5 linked regions of the Homo sapiens genome follow. The protein of the gene in region 5 purifies or fractionates together with the protein of the main gene of each other region. This does not show direct contact. Each region holds a gene or a part of one and is shown on either strand. Other genes may lie near its edges.

Region 1 (3,519 bases), on a different chromosome or scaffold from region 5:
TTTCATACTTAACCACATTTTTATGAATACGCTGAACAAAGCAAATCAGTTTATTTGTCCCCCAAATATTTTGATTTGTTCAAACAAGAATTCAGTCAGAGTCCCCATGATGCGTGTGGTGGTGCTTGGTGGTGCCTTAGTTCCTTTGACATGGGACAGCCCCTCCCAGCTCTTCATTTCTCATGAGTTGAAAAGGCTGGGCCAGGCCCGATGGCTCACGCCTGTAATCCCAGCACTTTGGGAGGCTGAGGCAGGTGGATCACGAGGTCAGGAGATCGAGACCATCCTGGCTAACATGGTGAAACCCTGTCTGTACTAAAAGAATACAAAAAATTAGCCGGGTGTGGTGGCGAGCGCCCGTAGTCCCAGCTACCTGGGAGGCTGAGGCAGGAGAATGGTGTGAACCCGGCAGGCGGAGCTTGCAGTGAGCCGAGATCGCACCACTGCACTCCAGTCTGGGCGTCAGAGTGAGACTCCGTCTCAAAAAAAAAAAAAAAAAAAGAAAGTAAATAAAAAAAATTAAGAAAAAAAAAGGCTGGACCAGCTGCCCTGTAGGATGTCTCACCTTCTGGATTGATTTTGTTTTCTCTGATATCACTGAACTTAATTAACCCTCTGATCCCTGTGTTTCCTGTGAAGTGGAAACTGAATCTACAGGGCTCAGTGATGAGGGCTGAGTATTTTTGAGAAGAAGTCCTCACTGGTGGTGTGTGTGTCACATTGCGTCCCATCAGGAGGTCCTCGATGTCGGGTTGGCCCACAGTTAGCGATGCTGAGATTGATCGCGGCCTTAGGCTGGCGACCCTGGTAGTTACGTCCCCCCTTGTGACTATAACAGTGGTTCTTTGGCTCTCGGCGAAGATCCAGTTCCCCATCAGTCTTTCACCTAATGGTGTTGGCGTTCTTGTCCAAATCAATCACGTAATTAGAAGATGGAATAGGGCAATATTTGATAATCTATTATTCGGTCCACATTGCTTAGCAGACATTCTTCAATTAAAGAAAAAAGAGCCTTCTCTAACTAACGGGGCTGTCTGGATAGGGACAAATGAGTTTTTCTCTGGGGGTTTTCTTTGAGGACTTGTGGGTTTTCATCTTGCATCCTGCTTCACTCAAATGCTGCCATCAGTACTTGTGAGGCTCAGGTTGTCTCATCTTAGGCAGCAGGAGCCTCTTCAGGTGCTTGGGCAGCCCCTTGGTTAGCCTCCGTGCCTCCAGGCGCTATGCGACATTCCAGGCTCATCTAGCACACTCCCCACCCTGGACCTGGACGCCTCCGTCTCTCCAAGGAGCCCAGTTCCTGTTAGCAGGGATCTTCCTTCTCTCTTGATTGGTGTAGCTACTTTTCACTTTTGAGAGCACCTATGAATCTGTCAGTCATTTCTGAGTCTATTTTATGCCTCCAATTATTCTTATGAGCTAGTTCAATAGGAAAAATAGCTCTTTCTAAGGGGTGTGTGTGTTTGCACGACGGGGGCGGGGGAGAGAGAAAGAGACAGACATTTTGTAAAAGACTGGCATATGTATTAGTGTGAGATTAATGAGGGCATTAAAAGAGGCTAAAGACGTTGTCACCATGCTAGTGGTTTTCAGGTCCCCCAAATCCTTGACTCTTCCTCCCATGATCTTCGATTTTCCCAAAATATCCCTGCGTCCTCCCTGGAAAGCCCCAGAATGTTCCAGAAGTGAGAGCAGGCTGGGGGCCGGGCAGCACTGTAGGCAGGACTAGAGGGTGGTCGGGATGCGGTGGTGGTGAGGGGGCGACAGACCCAGAAGGCTGAGGGTTAGGACCACAGAGGACACTGTCACTTAGAAGGAAAATACATAGGATCAGGCCCCCCTCGGGCCTCTCCAGTGTCCCCTCAGCTTCCACACCTCCCTGGGAAGTCACAGCCACATGCTGAATGTGACGCCGTGGTCTGGGTGGATAACTCGCTGGTTGTGGGTGGTTTCTGGATGCAGATGCTGCTTTCCTTAGGCCTGAATTGAGCCCTCAGATGGAGGCAGAGAATAGACCCCACAATAAAGGAGAGAGGAGCAGGGACCTGAGAGCTCCCTCTACGTGTGCTACTTCCCGGTGCAGAAAAATGCTACCAGGTAGTACCGTAATGAAAATGATAATGGCAAGACAGCATCAACAACTGTGGCTAACTTACACTTTTCAGATGAGGAGAGGCTCAGTAACTCAGCCCAGGCCACACAGCACAGCAAGTAAATTGAGAAGGCAACATGGGAACCTGGGGCCGTGGGCAGCTCTGTGGGTGAATCCCCTCCCTAGCCACCAGGCTCACGGAGATCCAGCGGGTTGCGACCCCCGTCGGGCTGCCCCACGCTCACCCCTGTGCTCATCCTCCCTCAAGGCAAGGACCAGGTGTCGCTCAGCTGTAGCACAGAGACAGGACTAGAGTGGGGGCACAGTTGTAAAATTGAACTAGGGGGCAATGGTCCTGATGCTCTGACCCCGCAAGATGCTACTCAGGGCAGCTGCCCTGCTCTCCATGCCCAGAATTTCTTCCACGTCTCCAGGAGCCCCACACTTTGACGTGGACTCTACTGGCTTCTGTGCCCAGCCGTGCCCTCTGGAGGCTCTGCCCCTGGCTTGGGTTACCCGGAGCTGGAAAATGCCAGGGCAGGTCATGGGTAAAAATAGAAACCCACAGACCTGGCACATGCTTCCTGCTGGGCTCAGGCGGCTGCCCCAGGCACAGTGTCGCCTTGTGTGGGCCACTGCTTCCCCAGGGCAGGGTGTGGGTGGGAGGATGAGTCTATCACGCCTACGTGTGCACGTGCACACACACACACACACACTGTCTCTCTCCCCACCCCCCTTTTTCTTTAATAATTTCAACTTTTATTTTAGATTCAGGGAGTACATATGCAGATTTCTTACATGGGTATATATTGTGATGCCAAGGTTTGGGGTACGATTAATCCTGTCACCCAGGTAATGAGCATAGTACCCAATAGTTAGTTTTCCAATCTTTGCCCGCTTCTTCCCTCCCCGCTCCAGTAGTGCCCAGTGTCTACTCTTGCCATTTTTCTGTCCATGAGTACCCATGTTTAGCTCCCACTTATAAGAACATGTGGTATTTGGTTTTCTATTCCTGCATTAATTTGCTTAGGATAATGACCTCCAGCTGCATCCATGTTGCTGCAAAGGATATGGGTTCATTCTTTTTTGGGGGCTGCGTAGTATTCCATGGTGTATATGAATGACATTTTCTGTATCCAGTCTACCATTGCTGGGCACCTGGTTGATTCCGTGTCTTTGCTGTTGTGAATAGTGCTGTGATGAACGTGTGAGTGCAGGTGTCTTTTTGGTAGGATGATTTTCTTTTGGATATATACCCAGTAACAGGATTGCTGAGTGAAATGGTAGTTCTGAGTTCTTTGAGAAATCTCCAAACTGCTTTCCACAGTGGCTGAACCAATTTACATTCCCATCAGTGCACTCCCCATCTTAAGCTGTTAGTACGAATACCAATCAGGCAATTGTGGCTTCACATCAGCTTTACTTAA
Region 2 (3,475 bases), on a different chromosome or scaffold from region 5:
AGGTTGTGTTTATAAAATACAAACTGTGGCATACATTCTCTATACAAACTTGAAATTAAACTGAGTTTTACATTTCTCTTTAAAGGTATTGGTTTGAATTCAGATTTGCTTTTTTATTTTTATTTGTTTTTTTTTTTTTTGAGATGGAGTCTTGCTCTGTTGCCTAGGCTGGAGTGCAGTGGCGCAATCTCAACTCACTGCAACCTCCGCTTCCTAGGTTCAATCGATTCTCCTGTCTCAACCTCCCAAGTAGCTGGGATTACAGGCACACATCACGATGTCCTGCTAATTTTTGTATTTTTAGTAGAGACGGGGTTTTGCCATGTTGGCCAGGCTGGTCTTGAACTCCTGACCTCAGGTGATCTGCCCACCTCAGCCTCCCAAAGTGAGCCACTGTGCCTGGCCGAATTAAGATTTGTTTTTGAAATGCTGTAAAAGGTTATATTGGAAATCCAGTAATTGATTGTTGAGATTTTTATTTCTGTTAGAGACTTAGATTTTTTTAAGTTAGCTATTTTAAAAAAGCATTCAAAAAGATTAATGAAAATTGTAATAGAGAAAAAGTTAGAAATTCAGTTCCTTTTGGCAGAATAAATGTTCAAGAAAATTAGGCTGTGAGGGTACTCAGAACATTAAAAAAAATGTAGGCTGGGCATGGTGGCTCACACCTGTAATCCCAGCACATTGGGAGGCCGAGGCAGGTGGATCACCTGAGGTCAGGAGTTTGAGACCACCCTGGCCAACATGTCAAAACCCTGTCTCTGCTAAAACTACAAAAATTAGCTGGGCATGGTGGCGACCGCCTGTAATCCCAACTACTTGGGAGGCTAAGGCAGGAGAATTGCTTGAACCCGGGAGGCAGGGGTTGTAGTGAGCTGAGATTGTGCCACTGCACTCCAGCCTGGGTGACAGTGCAAGACTCTGTCTCAACAACAACGATAACAAAATATTGATTCGGCAGGGCACGGTGGCTCATGCTTGTAATCCCAGCATTTTGGGTGGCCAAGGCAGGCGGCTCACCTGAGGTCAGGGGTTCGAGACCAGCCTGACCAACATGGTGAAACTTTGTCTCTACTAAAAAAAAAAAAATCCAAAACAAATTAGCCGGGTGTGGTGGCACACTCCTGTGGTCCCAAGTACTTGGGAGGCTGAGGCAGGAGAATTGGTTGAACCCAGGAGGTGGAGGTTGCAGTGAGCTGAGATCATACCACTGTGCTCCAGCCTGGGCAGCAGAGCCAGACTCTATCTCAAAATAAAGACAAGTAGATTGCCAATTTTTGAAGAATTCATCAAGATATTTTAAGGAAGGCACTTTATATTAAATATATGTCAGATCCTTTAGAAATTGCATACAGTTGGTTGGGCACGGTGGCTCACGCCTGTAATCCCAGCACTTTGGGAGGCTGAGGCGGGCGGATTGCCTGAGCTCAGGAGTTCGAAACCAGCCTGGGCAACACAGTGAAACCTCGTCTCTAATAAAATACAAAAAATTAGCTGGGCGTGGCAGCATGTGCCTGTAGTCCCAGCTACTCCGGAGGCTGAGGCAGGCAAATTGCTTGAACCCGAGAGGCAGAGGTTGCAGTGAGCTGAGATTGTGCCACTGCATTTCAGCCTGGGCAACAGAGCAAGACTCTGTCTCAAAAAAAAATAAAAAATTGCATTGCATACAGTTTTCACTGTAACCCTAATCTTTCCTCATGTGTAGATTAGAATAAATTTTTTAGACAAAACCTTTCATCAGTATTAAACATTCTACAGATTTTATGATATCATTAGCATTTATCTTTATGCATGTGTTATATAAAAATATTTAAAGTAAATGTATTTTTTAAATGTTATTTCCATTATTAATGGATTGATACTCCTTAAGTAGAGCATTCACAACCTTTTAGTAATATTTGGGAAATATGTTTGGTCTCATTATTAGATGGTATTACATCTCAAATGATGTTCCTGTTGCAGAAGTCTGCGAAACAATATCTAAACTTGGCTGCAGTTGAGAGCTAAACAGTGTATTGAACCAGTTAGGAGTTTAGTTCTCTGTAGAAAACCAGAGGCAGTCCAGGGCTGATGTAGGTTTTGTTCCACATTCTTTAGGATCCTAGGCTCCCTCCATCCCTGGTATGTGGTCCTCATTTTCATATAGACCAAGAGCTAGAGCTCCAGTTACCATTTCTTAAAGTATATTTTAATGCCAAATAGTGAATAAAGGTGGCCAGAAAATTCATGCACAGAATCCTTCTTTTTCTCATTTTGTGCTGATTGGTATAAATTTTATTGTATTTGTAGTCTCTGGAAATCTTCTAACTTTGAGAGGACAAAGATGAATTCCTAGTCCTGTTTTGGATGGTCTTCAAATGATCCTTAAGGGCAGTTATTTAAAATGTCTTTCTTAACTCACCCAACCTAGGCTGACCGAATGTAGTCTGTATAAACTAGATGGTTAAAGATAAAGAAGCCTATATATCAGATGCATAGACAAAGAATAAAATGGCATCCAGAACTGGTCCCCACCTATTCCCAATCCTGGTTCCACAGCAGAATACATTCATAGTTCAGGCATTCTTCCTTGAGATAGATATAATGTAAGTGACCAAGTCTCTTGGACAAGTATTGTCTCTGATCAATCCCTGCCAAACTCCTTTCCTTGGTTAACTCAAGTGGTTAGATCTTACTCCCTGAACAGAAGGAATATGAGAGGTCAATACATGCCTAGACTATTCAGTCCTCTGATATTGCTCCACACCCTTTCCCTCAAAAGCCATGAGACCTTTCAATGGTCCCAGTTCCTCTACCAGAACACCAGAGATGCCTGCTTTACATGGACTTATATATTCCCAAGAATCACTTGGATAAATGAGTGGTGCTGCTTTCCCGTGGTTGGGGAAAAGCTAGGAACCTGACAATGCAGTGCTCAGAACCTGCTGACCGGTACTAGTTATGCTGTCTTGCCATAGTAGTGCAGTTCTTTAAAATGTTGATACTTGCTCTCTTATCAAAGGTTGGTTTTTTTGTTTTTTTGTCAAGACAGGGTCTCACTATGTCACCCATACTGGAGTACAATGGTGTAATCTTGGCTTACTGCAACCTCCACCTTCTGGGCTCAAGCTGGCCTCTCACCTCAGCCTTCCAAGTAGCTGGGACCACACCCAGTCAATTTTTTATTTTTTATTTTTTAATTTATTTTTATTATTACTTTTTTTGTAGAGAGAGGGTTTCGCCATGTAGCCCATGCTGGTCTTGAACTCCTGGGCTCAAGCTGTCTGCCCACCTGGACCTCCCAAAGTGCTGAGATTACAGGCATGAGCCACCGCACCCAGCCCAAATAAAGTTTTAAGAAATTACTTGGCCAGGCATAGTGGGGCCTTTGTAGAAAAACATAGCTTTTCTATGAGAAGATGATCAATATTTTCTTTTCCTTTGAATTTGGAATTACCATTTTGGAACTGTTGTCAACAATGCATAATAATATATC
Region 3 (3,519 bases), on a different chromosome or scaffold from region 5:
TGTAGTCCTAGCTACTCAGGAGGCTGAGGTAGGAGGACTGCTTGAGACCAGAAGTTGAGACTACAGTGATCCATGATCATGTCACTGTCATACAGCCTGGGGAATAAAGTGAGATCCTGCCTCAAAAAAGAAAAAAAAAATGCTGAATTTACTATATATATTTTATGCTAGTAAGAGAATAAAAAACATGTACATACGCCACCCAGTAGTTCCTTTTAGCTCAAACCCAATTACTGGTTCTACTCAAGTCATCTTCAGGATTGGCAAGGATCTCCACTTTGGAATAATCTTCTCCTGGCCCCAGCTGCCTTACACAACTTTAGAATTTAAACATAGATATGTAGGCAAAAAAAAAAAAAAAAAAAAAAAAAAAAAAAAAAAAAGGTTTCCCAAAAATATTCATGCCTTAATCCCTGGAATCTGTGAATATGTTAGGTTACAAAGGAAAACTGAAGTTGTACATGGAATTAAGGTTGCTTATCAGCCTAATATAAGGCTAACCTTAAAATAGGGAGATTATCCTAGATTATCTGTTATCACCGTGGCCCAATATGGTAACAACTGTCTTCAAAAGTGGAAGAGGGAGGCAGAAGAGTCAGAGGAAGAGGTTCCCATAGAAGAAAGGCAAAGACACAGAGAGATACAATGTTGCTGGTTTTGAAGACAGAGGCTGAGAGTGGCCTCTAGAAACTAAAAAGCAAGAAAAGATTGTCCTCTAAGCCTCCAAATGGAAATGCAGCCCTGTTGACATCTTAATTTTAGCCCAGTGACATCCATTTTGGACTTCAGACCTCCAGAACCGTTAAGATAATAAACTTAATGTTATTTCAAACAACTAAGTTTGCAGTAATTTGTTATAGCAGCAATAGGAAACGAATACAACAGAGGTTCCCAGTATAGAATCCTGGAGAAGTCCTTCTAAGGCAGTAGCAGCTTGTGATAGTAGAACTGGGATTTGAACCTAGGCATTCTGGCTTCAGGCTTCACGGACTGTGCTCTAAACCACCATACTAGATTGCCTCTCCAGGGTGGGCTGTATGTAGGACAAGTTCAAGGCCAGAAAAACATGCATGCCTAGTAACACTATAATAAATTCTTGACACTAGAGCAGAGTACGAGTCTGAGGTGGAGGGAGTCATGGCAGGACAAGCGTTTAAGTTTCTTCCACTCTTTGACCGAGTATTGGTTGAAAGGAGTGCTGTTGAAACTGTAACCAAAGGAGGCATTATGCTTCCAGAAAAATCTCAAGGAAAAGTATTGCAAGCAACAGTAGTCGCTGTTGGATCGGGTTCTAAAGGAAAGGGTGGAGAGATTCAACCAGTTCGTGTGAAAGTTGGAGATAAAGTTCTTCTCCCATAACATGGAGGCACCAAAGTAGTTCTAGATGACAAGGATTATTTCCTATTTAGAGATGGTGACGTTCTTGGAAAGTACGTAAACTGAAATAAGTCACTATTGAAATGGCATCAACATGAAGCTGCCCATTCCACCGAAGTTCTGAAATCTTTCATCATGTAAATAATTTCCATATTTCTCTTTTATAATAAACTAAATAACTAATGAAAAAAATAAAATAAATTCTTCTATTGTGCTTTCTCATCAGTGAATATTCTTTCTAGCCTGTCTAACAAATTCATTTTCATTCTTAAGATGAAATGTTTTTTCTGTTGCTTTAGTGATATCTTCTTAAGCATCTGTCTTTTCATCTTTAAAAGGGGAAATGAGTACTAACTCAAGAACTGTTAGGAGGATTAACTAATGCATGCCATGTGTTCTGCACAATGTATGGCATATCATAGTACCTACACAATAGATGTAATAGGTCAGGCATGGTGGCTCATGCCTGTAATCCCAACACTTCTGGAGGCCGAGGCAGCGATCACTGAGGTCAGGAGTTCGAGACCAGTCTGGTCAACATGGTAAAACCCCGTCTCTACTAAAAATACAAAAATTAGTTTGGTGTTGTGGTGCACACCTGTAATCCAGCTACTCGGGAGGCTGAGGCAGGAGAACTGCTTGAGGTAGAGGTTGCAATGAGCCAAGGTCTTGCCACTGCACTCCAGCCTGAACAACAGAGTGAGATTCCTACTCAAAAAAAAAAAAAAAAAAAAAAAAAGATGGCTGGACATGGTAGCTCACGCCTGTAATCCCAGCACTTTGGGAGGCCAAGGCGGGCAGATCACCTGAGGTCGGGAGATTGAGACCAGTCTGACCGACATGGAAAAACCCCGTCTCTATTAAAAATACAAAATTAGCCAGGCGTGGTGGCACATGCCTGTAATCCCAGCTACTCGGGAGGCTGAGGCAGGAGAATCGCTTGAACCCAGGAGGAGGAGGTTGCGGTGAGCCGAGATCGCGCCGTTGCACTCCATCCTGGGCAACAAGAGTGAAACTCCATCTCAAAAAAAAAAAAAAAGATGTAATATAAAAATTACCAGTATCACCATATAAGGGAGAATTTGGATCTATCAGAGAGCTCCAAATAGCACAATTACATCAAACAGCAAAAAATATTAGTAAGTTGGATTTGGGTTTTTTAAAATTTATTTTATTTTTTTGTATTTTTAGTGGAGATGGGGTTTCACCGTGTTAGCCAGGATGGTCTCGACCTCCTGACCTCGTGATCCGCCTGCCTCGGCCTCCCAAAGTGCTGGGATTACAGGCGTGAGCCACCACGCCCAGCCTGGATTTGGGTTTAAAATAGAAATAAGCATTCCCTCCAACTTTTAATTTTCAACATTTATTTTTACTTATTTTTCCTTTGGAGATGGCATCACAGCTCATTAATTTTCAACATTTATAAGTGCGCACACACAAAAAGTTCTAATGCACACACACAGTTCACCTTCTAGGTTCACTGTTAACTTCTTGCCACATTTGCTTTCTCTCTCTACACACACACACACACACACACCCCACTGCTTTTTAAAAATGAACCTTTTGATGAGAGTTAGCTGCAGACAAAGTATCACTCCATTCCTAAATACTTCACTATAACAGCATCTCTCCAACCTTCTGTTTTTCATGTCATGGAATTTTTTGAATATCCTATTCTTCAACAACTTTCATCCAAAGAGTTCAGGATCTATTAATTGTCCTTGCCTAAATCAATGATTATGCTAGAATCTGTAAAACAGTCCTTTTCTATCATTCTTTCTACCTTAGCAGGCATTCTTCTATAAACAAGAGCTTTTTTCCTTTCTCTGCTTCTTTGACTAGGAAATCACAATTCTTAAAAACTGTGTATCATAATCTATCGCTTTGTTGCTTTTTGATGCTCAAAGTGTCTGGACTTGGCCATTAAGACCCTTTAAGCCAGCTTCTGAAGCCTTCTGATAGGACCCCATCAGTCTGTAAGCCCCACATGAGAAACTCCGTGGAAGCATTAGGTAGCTCTAAAAATGGTGTTCTTCCTTCAACTTAAGTATTCAGACATGAAATGACCATTTTCCAGTAACGCTGGGGTAGTCACCTCCACAGCTGCTGAGGTAGCTAGCACAGTACAACTGTTCTGTGGTT
Region 4 (3,519 bases), on a different chromosome or scaffold from region 5:
TGTAAGGAATATGACACTTGTTTCCTGCTTTGTTGTTGGAAAACTGCATTCTTGTGACTTACATAATTGAGCTAAAAGTTTGATTTCTGTTTTCAATTGATTTTGCTCATACACTTTTAGACTGCAGAATCCGCAACGGTGAGAATGGAATACATTTTCTCCTAAACAGAGATGGGAAACGAAGGGGTGATGCCTTAATTGAAATGGAGTCAGAGCAGGATGTGCAGAAAGCCTTAGAGAAGCACCGCATGTACATGGGCCAGCGGTATGTGGAAGGTATGTGAAGTCAGATTATGGCTTTTTGGGATCATTGCATTAGGTTTTATACTTTTCAAGGTAGTTTTTATTTGATCCTTAATAATGAAGTATTTAGATTGTATGAATGCATTCTTTTATAGGATGTGAAAATAAAACATAAAGAGATAAAGTTTCTTTTTTTTGTGGGGGGGATGGAATCTCACTCTGTCACCCAGGCTGGAGTGCAGTGGTGCGATTTCAGCTCACTGCAACCTCTGCCTCCTGGGTTCAAGCAATTCTCCTGTCTCAGCCTCCCAAGTAGCTGGGACTACAGGCACATGCCATGATACCCAGCTAATTTTTGTATTTTTATTAGAGATGGGGTTTTACCATATTGGTCAGGCTGGTCTCAAACTCCTGACCTCAGGTAATCCACCCGCCTTGGCCTCCCAAAGTTCTGGGATTATAGGCGTGAGCCAGTGTGCCTGGCCAATGAAGTATCTTACAAGCTGTGAGAAATAAAGAAGTTATGCCCGCATGGTAAATATGCAATAAATGTCATTTGTTATTTTCTCTAGAGAAGCGCATAAAGATTAAAATAGTTATTGAATTCTCAGATAACCCAGCAAGTTGTAATGATTTTTTTTAATGGGTTTGTTCCTTTGTTATGTAAATTTTTCATCCCTGTTGGGTTTTTTCTTCGTAGTATATGAGATAAACAATGAAGATGTGGATGCCTTAATGAAGAGCTTGCAGGTCAAATCTTCGCCTGTGGTAAATGATGGTGTGGTTCGTTTGAGAGGACTTCCTTATAGTTGCAATGAGAAAGACATTGTAGACTTCTTTGCAGGTACTTTGCAGTTGTATTATGCTTGGGAGCTCATATCTTTTTTCCCTTGGTATCTCCTTCTATATCTTAGATGAGCCTGTTTCTGGGCAAAGGCATGCAGTTATATTAGGTTCTTTAGGGGAGAGCTCTTCACTTAAATTTCTAATATTTATAGATTTTATATGTGTTTTTGTTCTATCAGGCAGATTTTAGGAGGGAAGTCAGATTTCAGAATAATTTCATGAGGGTTTTACTATTGAAGGAAATAACTTCTCATAATAGTTGCTGTATTTGTGTAAGACAATAACAATTTATATAATTTAAAAGTATTTTCTAATTCCTAGAACCATTAGCAGTGAAGTCTGTGATTTCTATTGTTTCCTAGTATATAATTAACAGCAAAAAAAAAAAAAAAAACTGGTGGGGAGAATTGTATGTTTTGGGTGGGCTTCTTGGACCTTACCTATTCTGGAAATACAAGTATGTAGGTGTTGACTGACTTTTGACTGCATAATAATTTTCTTCCTGTCAAGCATGTATTCAGTTTTGGGACTGGCAAAACAGAATAAAAATTTTATTAGTATGTGAATGATGGTGTTAATTCTAAGGATAAAAAAGCCTGCTAGTAGCATTAAAATCTCTTGGTGTCCTAGGACTGAATATAGTTGACATTACTTTTGTGATGGACTATAGAGGGAGGCGAAAAACAGGGGAAGCCTATGTGCAATTTGAAGAACCAGAAATGGCCAACCAAGCCCTGTTGAAACACAGGGAAGAAATTGGTAATCGGTGAGTAAAGCAGATACTAATGATGCAGAAGTGTTACACATTAAGTCATTTTGATGAATGTGCTGTAATATGACTGAAAAGTTATCCAAACATAGAAAAGTAGAGAGAGTAGTGTAGTGAGCCATCAAATGCCCATAATTTAGATTAACAATTTTTTTTCGACTGCTCCTTTTTTTTTTTTTTGAGACAGAGTTTCACTCTTTTTGCCTAGGCTAGAGTGCAATGGCACGATCTTGGCTCACTGCAACCTCTGCCTCCCTGGTTTAAGCGATTCTCCTGCCTCAGCCTCCCAAGTAGCTGGGATTACAGGCGCCTGCCACCATGCCCGGCTTTTTTTGTATTTTTAGTAGAGACGGGGTTTCACCATGTTGGCCAGGGTGGTCTCGATCTCTCGACCTTGTGATCCGCCCGCCTCGGCCTCCCAAAGTGCTGGGATTACAGGCGTGAGCCACCGCATCCGGCTTGACTGCTCCTTGTGGGGCAGGGACTAACCCATAGACAGAGTACCTAGAGCAGCTAGATTAACACATTTATATATAAAATGTAACATCTGTTATATTTGCTTCATCTGGGTTTTTTTTAGTATGCATCTTTTAAAAAAATTTTTTTACATAATTTCAATGTTATATCTAACACTGTTAGCAATAGTATATTATCTAATAACAGTTCATAATAGCATTTTCCCAATTATACCAAAAATAGCCTTTTTTTTTTTGGCAACGGAGTTTCACTCTGCCGCCTAGGCTGGAGTGCGGTGGTGTGATCTTGGCTCACTGCATCCTCTCTCTGCCTCCCAGTTTCATGTGATCCTCCTGCCTCAGCCTCCTGAGTAGCTGGAACTAGAGGCATGCGCCACCATGCCCAGCTAAGTTTTGTATTTTTAGTAGAGACAAGGTTTTACCATGTTGGCCAGGCTGGTCTAGAACTCCCGGACTCAAGTCATTCACCCACCTCGGCCTCCAAAAGTGCTGGGATTACAGGTGTGAGCCAGCACACCGGACAAAAATACAGAATCCAGATAAGGTCTACACACTGCATTTGATTGTTATGTCCATAATTCTCTGTGTGTGTGTGTGTTTTTTTTTTTTTTTTAAGACACAGGGTCTTATTCTGTCACCCAGGCTGGAGTGCAGTGGCATGATGATAGCTCACTACAGCCTTGAATTCCTGGGCTCAAGCAATCGTCTCGCCTCATCCTCCCAACTAGCTAGAACAATAGGCATGTGCCGCCACACCTGGCTGTGTGTATGTGTGTGTGCGTGCGTGCGTGTGTGTTTGTAGGTGGGGTCTTGCTGTGTTGCCCTGGCTGGCCTCAAACTCATGGGCTCAAGTGATCGCCCGCTTTGGCTTCCCAAAACGCTAGGATTACAGGTGTGAGCCACTGCACCTGACCACTGATTCTCTTGAACTAGAGCAAATCCCCCTTACTTATTCTTCCCCCCTTTTTAAAAGCAATTGACTTTTGAAGAAATTAGATCAGTTGTCTTGTACAGTATCTCATGTTGACATCACCTCAGGATGCACATGATGATAAGTGGGTTCATTTGTGTTTTAACTTTAACTTTGGAGGTACAGTTTAAAATGTCAAATGTTAAATCACTGTTTCGTTAATTTTTTTTTTTACTGTTTTCTGGCCTTTTAAATCAGCTCCTTTGAAGTAAACA
Region 5 (3,519 bases):
AATGCCAGAAAAGGACAGGCTGTTCCGCCAGGGCTGCCCGTGGAAGGACTGTGTCAGCCTGAGGCTGCCGGGGTCACCCAGCAAATCTGGCCAGAACACAAGCCAGTGCAGAAGGCTGGGGCACCGGGCAGGGCGGGGCAAGGTGGGGCGGGCAGACGAACACGCAGAGGGGCCCCTGACGACATCATTTGGGCCCTGGATCCAGTCACAATAAGGTCAGCCCTACCCCTGAACTTTTCGGTCACCACAGCCAACAAATCACCCTTTTTCTTTCACCCTCTAGGTTGTGTGAGCCCCAGCTGCTCTGTAGAGGGACAAAAGGAAACCCTCGTACCTGGAGGTTGTATGGCGAGACCACAGCAATGTCACGGGCTGGAACACCAGCGTCCACCAGAGCCTGGATGTGCAAACTGACGAGGCGGACTTCGCCTGGAGGGAAAGAAAGAACGGGTGAGCAGCACAAGGTCGCCCCAAGTGGGCATCCACCACCAACACGTGTTTCGGGCACGTTTCTGTCTATCATGGCCAGCTGATCCTCCACTCAGGTGGCTTCCTGGGAGCTAATCATCTGTGTCCCAGGGCCCCAGGACCAGCCATGCCCAGCTAACTTGAATTTCACATCAGCAATGAAGGCCTTTTGACTCCTATGGCCGTGCATCCTGTTCAACGTGGAACTGGGGAGATGGTGGTGTCAGCTGAGCAATGACAGTTCCCATCACCAGACCAGCCAGGCAGAGCTGGGCCACCATTCAGGAGAAGGCCGTAAAATGCTGCCAGGCCCATCTCACCCAGGAGCGGTCTGCTCACCCTGGAGAAAACGATGCTGCTCAGCCTCTTGCAGTGTGGGGCTCCGTTTTTTCACGGCCATCAACAACTGCTCTCAGCTCCTCCCGGAATTAGGCAATTAAAGTGCCTTTTATTTTTAAAGAGCTGGAGGTATGTTTAAACAAAAAAGCTGGCCATCTGCAAGCAAGCTCACCAGGGTTCCCTTTCGACTGTTCGTCCTCCTCCTCCAGCTCAAACAGCCCGCAGCCGGCGGTGTCCACCAAGAGCAGGGGCACACCCGTCTCTTCTGTGGCAGCCACACCTGGGAGGTCCCTGGCACACAGGCAGAGAGGGAGCACATCAGGGGGCCACAGTGCAGCACTGAGGCCCCACCCAACAGAACCGACCCCTCCCACGAGGAAAAGGCTTAGGTAGGGGAGGACAATGAGCACATCAGGACATCAGAAGGGAGGGAGCGGGCCTGACCCAGCTCTCCAGGGCAAGGCCACCCTCTCTTCCAAAAAGCTAGCCTCAGAGTCGACTTTCATGCAGAAAGCTTCACTTTAGCTTGCTGCGTAGAAACAGGTGACGCAGAGGATTAGCCAGGGCAGAAGGATGGGGCGGCGGGTGGTGCCGAGCTACTCACCTCAGGAGGTGCCTTGCCACGGAAGAGTGGGCTGTGAGCTGCCCAAGGTACATGGTGTCTGAGGCCCAGCGCATGATAGCCTGGTGCATGCGGTACTGCACCGTCAGTGTCCGCACCACCCTCGCGCCGTACTCCTCAGCCAGGCGTTCCATCAGGCTGAGTGACAGTCCTGCCAGCGCAGCCCTGCGCCCAGGAGGGAGAAAGGGGGAAGGCAGGCCTGAGCCCCAGAGTCCAGGTGTGAACCACAGCAAGTGAGGAGGACAGGCCCCAAACCTCAGGACCCAACTCTCCCCTGGATTCTGACCCAGAAGTAACCAAGGGGCGGGTTTGGCTGAATCACAGCCCCAAAGGCACCTACATCCAATCGCCAAGGCCCGTGAATGTTCCCTTACAGGACAACAGGGACGCTGCAGCTGAGATGAAGTTAAGGATCCTGGGATGGGGAGGCGACCCTGGATGACCCAGGTGATAACCCAAGGGTCTTATAAGGGGGCATGCGAGGGTCAGTCAGAGAAGGTCACCGAGGGGAGAGATTTGAAGACGTAACACGGCTGGCTTCATAGACAGAGGAAAGGGCAACAAGTCAAGCAGTGGCCTCTAGGAGCCGGAAAAGACCAGGAGATGGGTTTTCCCCTGGATCCTCCAGAAGAAGCAACCCCACCCACACCTTGATTTTAAGCCGGTGAGTCTGATTTTGGACATCTGACCCCCAGATTGTCGTTTCTGGAGGTCAGAAAATCTGTTGTTGTCAGCCACTAAGCTTGTGGTCATTTGTCACAGCCATAACAGGGAACGAACACACTCCAACATGCTCCAACTGTGAGCAGTCAAGTCCACTCCCACCAAGAACGGCTGCAGCGGCTGAGCACTGCCCAGGCGCCAGGCACTGCTGGGTGTGCCAGATGTGGATTAACTCCCTTCATCCTTATAACAACCTCATGAGGTGGCTACTGTTATGACTCCCATATTACATGTAAGAAGGGTGAGACAGAGGAGGCTGCCAGCCCACAGCTGCCCGGGTGAGCTGCAGAGCCAGGACCTGCCCGGGCCACCTGGTGCCAGAGCCCACCCTCTGCACCACTACGGCTCACCAACCCCACCAAAACCCTGGGGCAGTACCCAGCTCCACTTCAGAGACCTTCCCTCTGGAAACTTACCAGACCTCTGTGATTAACGTATTTTTAATTCCAACAAAATGAGGACAGGACGCGATGATCAGTACCAACTGCAAACCCAAAACACTCAGCGCAACGTCACCCAACGTCCTCCCCCAAAAACCATCCTACTCTCTGCAGGGAACGCCACCCAACGTCTTCCCCCGAAACCATTCTACTCTCTCCAGGGAATGCCACCCAACGTCTTCCCCCGAAACCATCCTACTCTCTCCAGGGAACGCCACCCAATGTTTTCCCCGAAACCATCCTACTGTCTCCAGGGAATGCCACCCAATGTTTTCCCCGAAACCATCCTACTCTCTCCAGGGAACACCACCCAACGTCTTCCCCCAAAACCATCCTACTCTCTCCAGGGAACGCCACCCAACGTCTTCCCCCAAAACCATCCTACTCTCTGCAGGGAACGCCACCCAACGTCTTCCCCCGAAACCATCCTACTCCCTCCTACACAACAGGGTCCCTGCTCAAGGGCACAGTTCCAAACTTCCTCCACCCAAAGGCTTTCCAGAGGATGAAGACCTCCTTTAAGGACATCTCGAGAACCTCTCCCTGGAAGAAGCCACTGAATAAGCGTCCTCCCACGCCTGTCCTCCCTGCTCCCAGGGAGGTTCTGATGGCAGTGGCTGCTGCCATCATGCCGGCTGCAGCAGGGAACCCTGGCTGTGGCTGCACACTCCATGAAGCCAGTGGGAGCCCCGCCCCTTCTGAGGTAGAGTGGCCGCTGCAGCCCAGACACAGGGTCACAGCTACAGACCCAGGCCTCCTGCTCCAGAAGGGCGGGGCTACAGCCGCCCAAACTGCAGCTGTGGATCTGCGTCTCCCGGTGCTCTTAGGGGAGCCGGGAACAGGTAGGATCTGCCTTTCCGCGTGCAGCTGCAGCCGCCAGATCTGTGGCTGCAGACCTGGGCTTCCTGCTCCACGAAGCAGGCAGGA

The links.
Region 1: the proteins of IGHMBP2 (region 5) and TUBA8 purify together in Homo sapiens (affinity purification with mass spectrometry; 2 studies listed by BioGRID and IntAct, with this or other methods). This does not show direct contact.
Region 2: the proteins of IGHMBP2 (region 5) and WDR12 purify together in Homo sapiens (affinity purification with mass spectrometry; one large-scale study listed by BioGRID and IntAct). This does not show direct contact.
Region 3: the proteins of IGHMBP2 (region 5) and WDR89 purify together in Homo sapiens (affinity purification with mass spectrometry; 2 studies listed by BioGRID and IntAct, with this or other methods). This does not show direct contact.
Region 4: the proteins of IGHMBP2 (region 5) and GRSF1 purify together in Homo sapiens (affinity purification with mass spectrometry; 2 studies listed by BioGRID and IntAct, with this or other methods). This does not show direct contact.

The regions. Positions count from the first base shown.
Region 1 is NC_000022.11:18,117,293-18,120,811, forward strand, and holds part of TUBA8 (tubulin alpha-8 chain), read left to right. Parts: intron 1-3,519.
Region 2 is NC_000002.12:202,877,213-202,880,687, reverse strand, and holds part of WDR12 (ribosome biogenesis protein WDR12), read left to right. Parts: 3' UTR 1-3,475.
Region 3 is NC_000014.9:63,600,372-63,603,890, forward strand, and holds part of WDR89 (WD repeat-containing protein 89), read right to left. Parts: intron 1,937-3,519; exon of another isoform or gene 1,807-1,936; intron 1,564-1,806; exon of another isoform or gene 1,100-1,563; intron 1-1,099.
Region 4 is NC_000004.12:70,829,875-70,833,393, reverse strand, and holds part of GRSF1 (G-rich sequence factor 1), read left to right. Parts: intron 1-120; coding exon 121-276; intron 277-943; coding exon 944-1,087; intron 1,088-1,719; coding exon 1,720-1,855; intron 1,856-3,519. UniProt on the Homo sapiens protein: Regulator of post-transcriptional mitochondrial gene expression, required for assembly of the mitochondrial ribosome and for recruitment of mRNA and lncRNA. Binds RNAs containing the 14 base G-rich element.
Region 5 is NC_000011.10:68,931,374-68,934,892, reverse strand, and holds part of IGHMBP2 (DNA-binding protein SMUBP-2), read right to left. Parts: exon of another isoform or gene 1,772-3,519; coding exon of another isoform or gene 1,770-1,771; intron 1,595-1,769; coding exon 1,412-1,594; intron 1,099-1,411; coding exon 980-1,098; intron 430-979; coding exon 335-429; intron 1-334. UniProt on the Homo sapiens protein: 5' to 3' helicase that unwinds RNA and DNA duplexes in an ATP-dependent reaction. Specific to 5'-phosphorylated single-stranded guanine-rich sequences. May play a role in RNA metabolism, ribosome biogenesis or initiation of translation.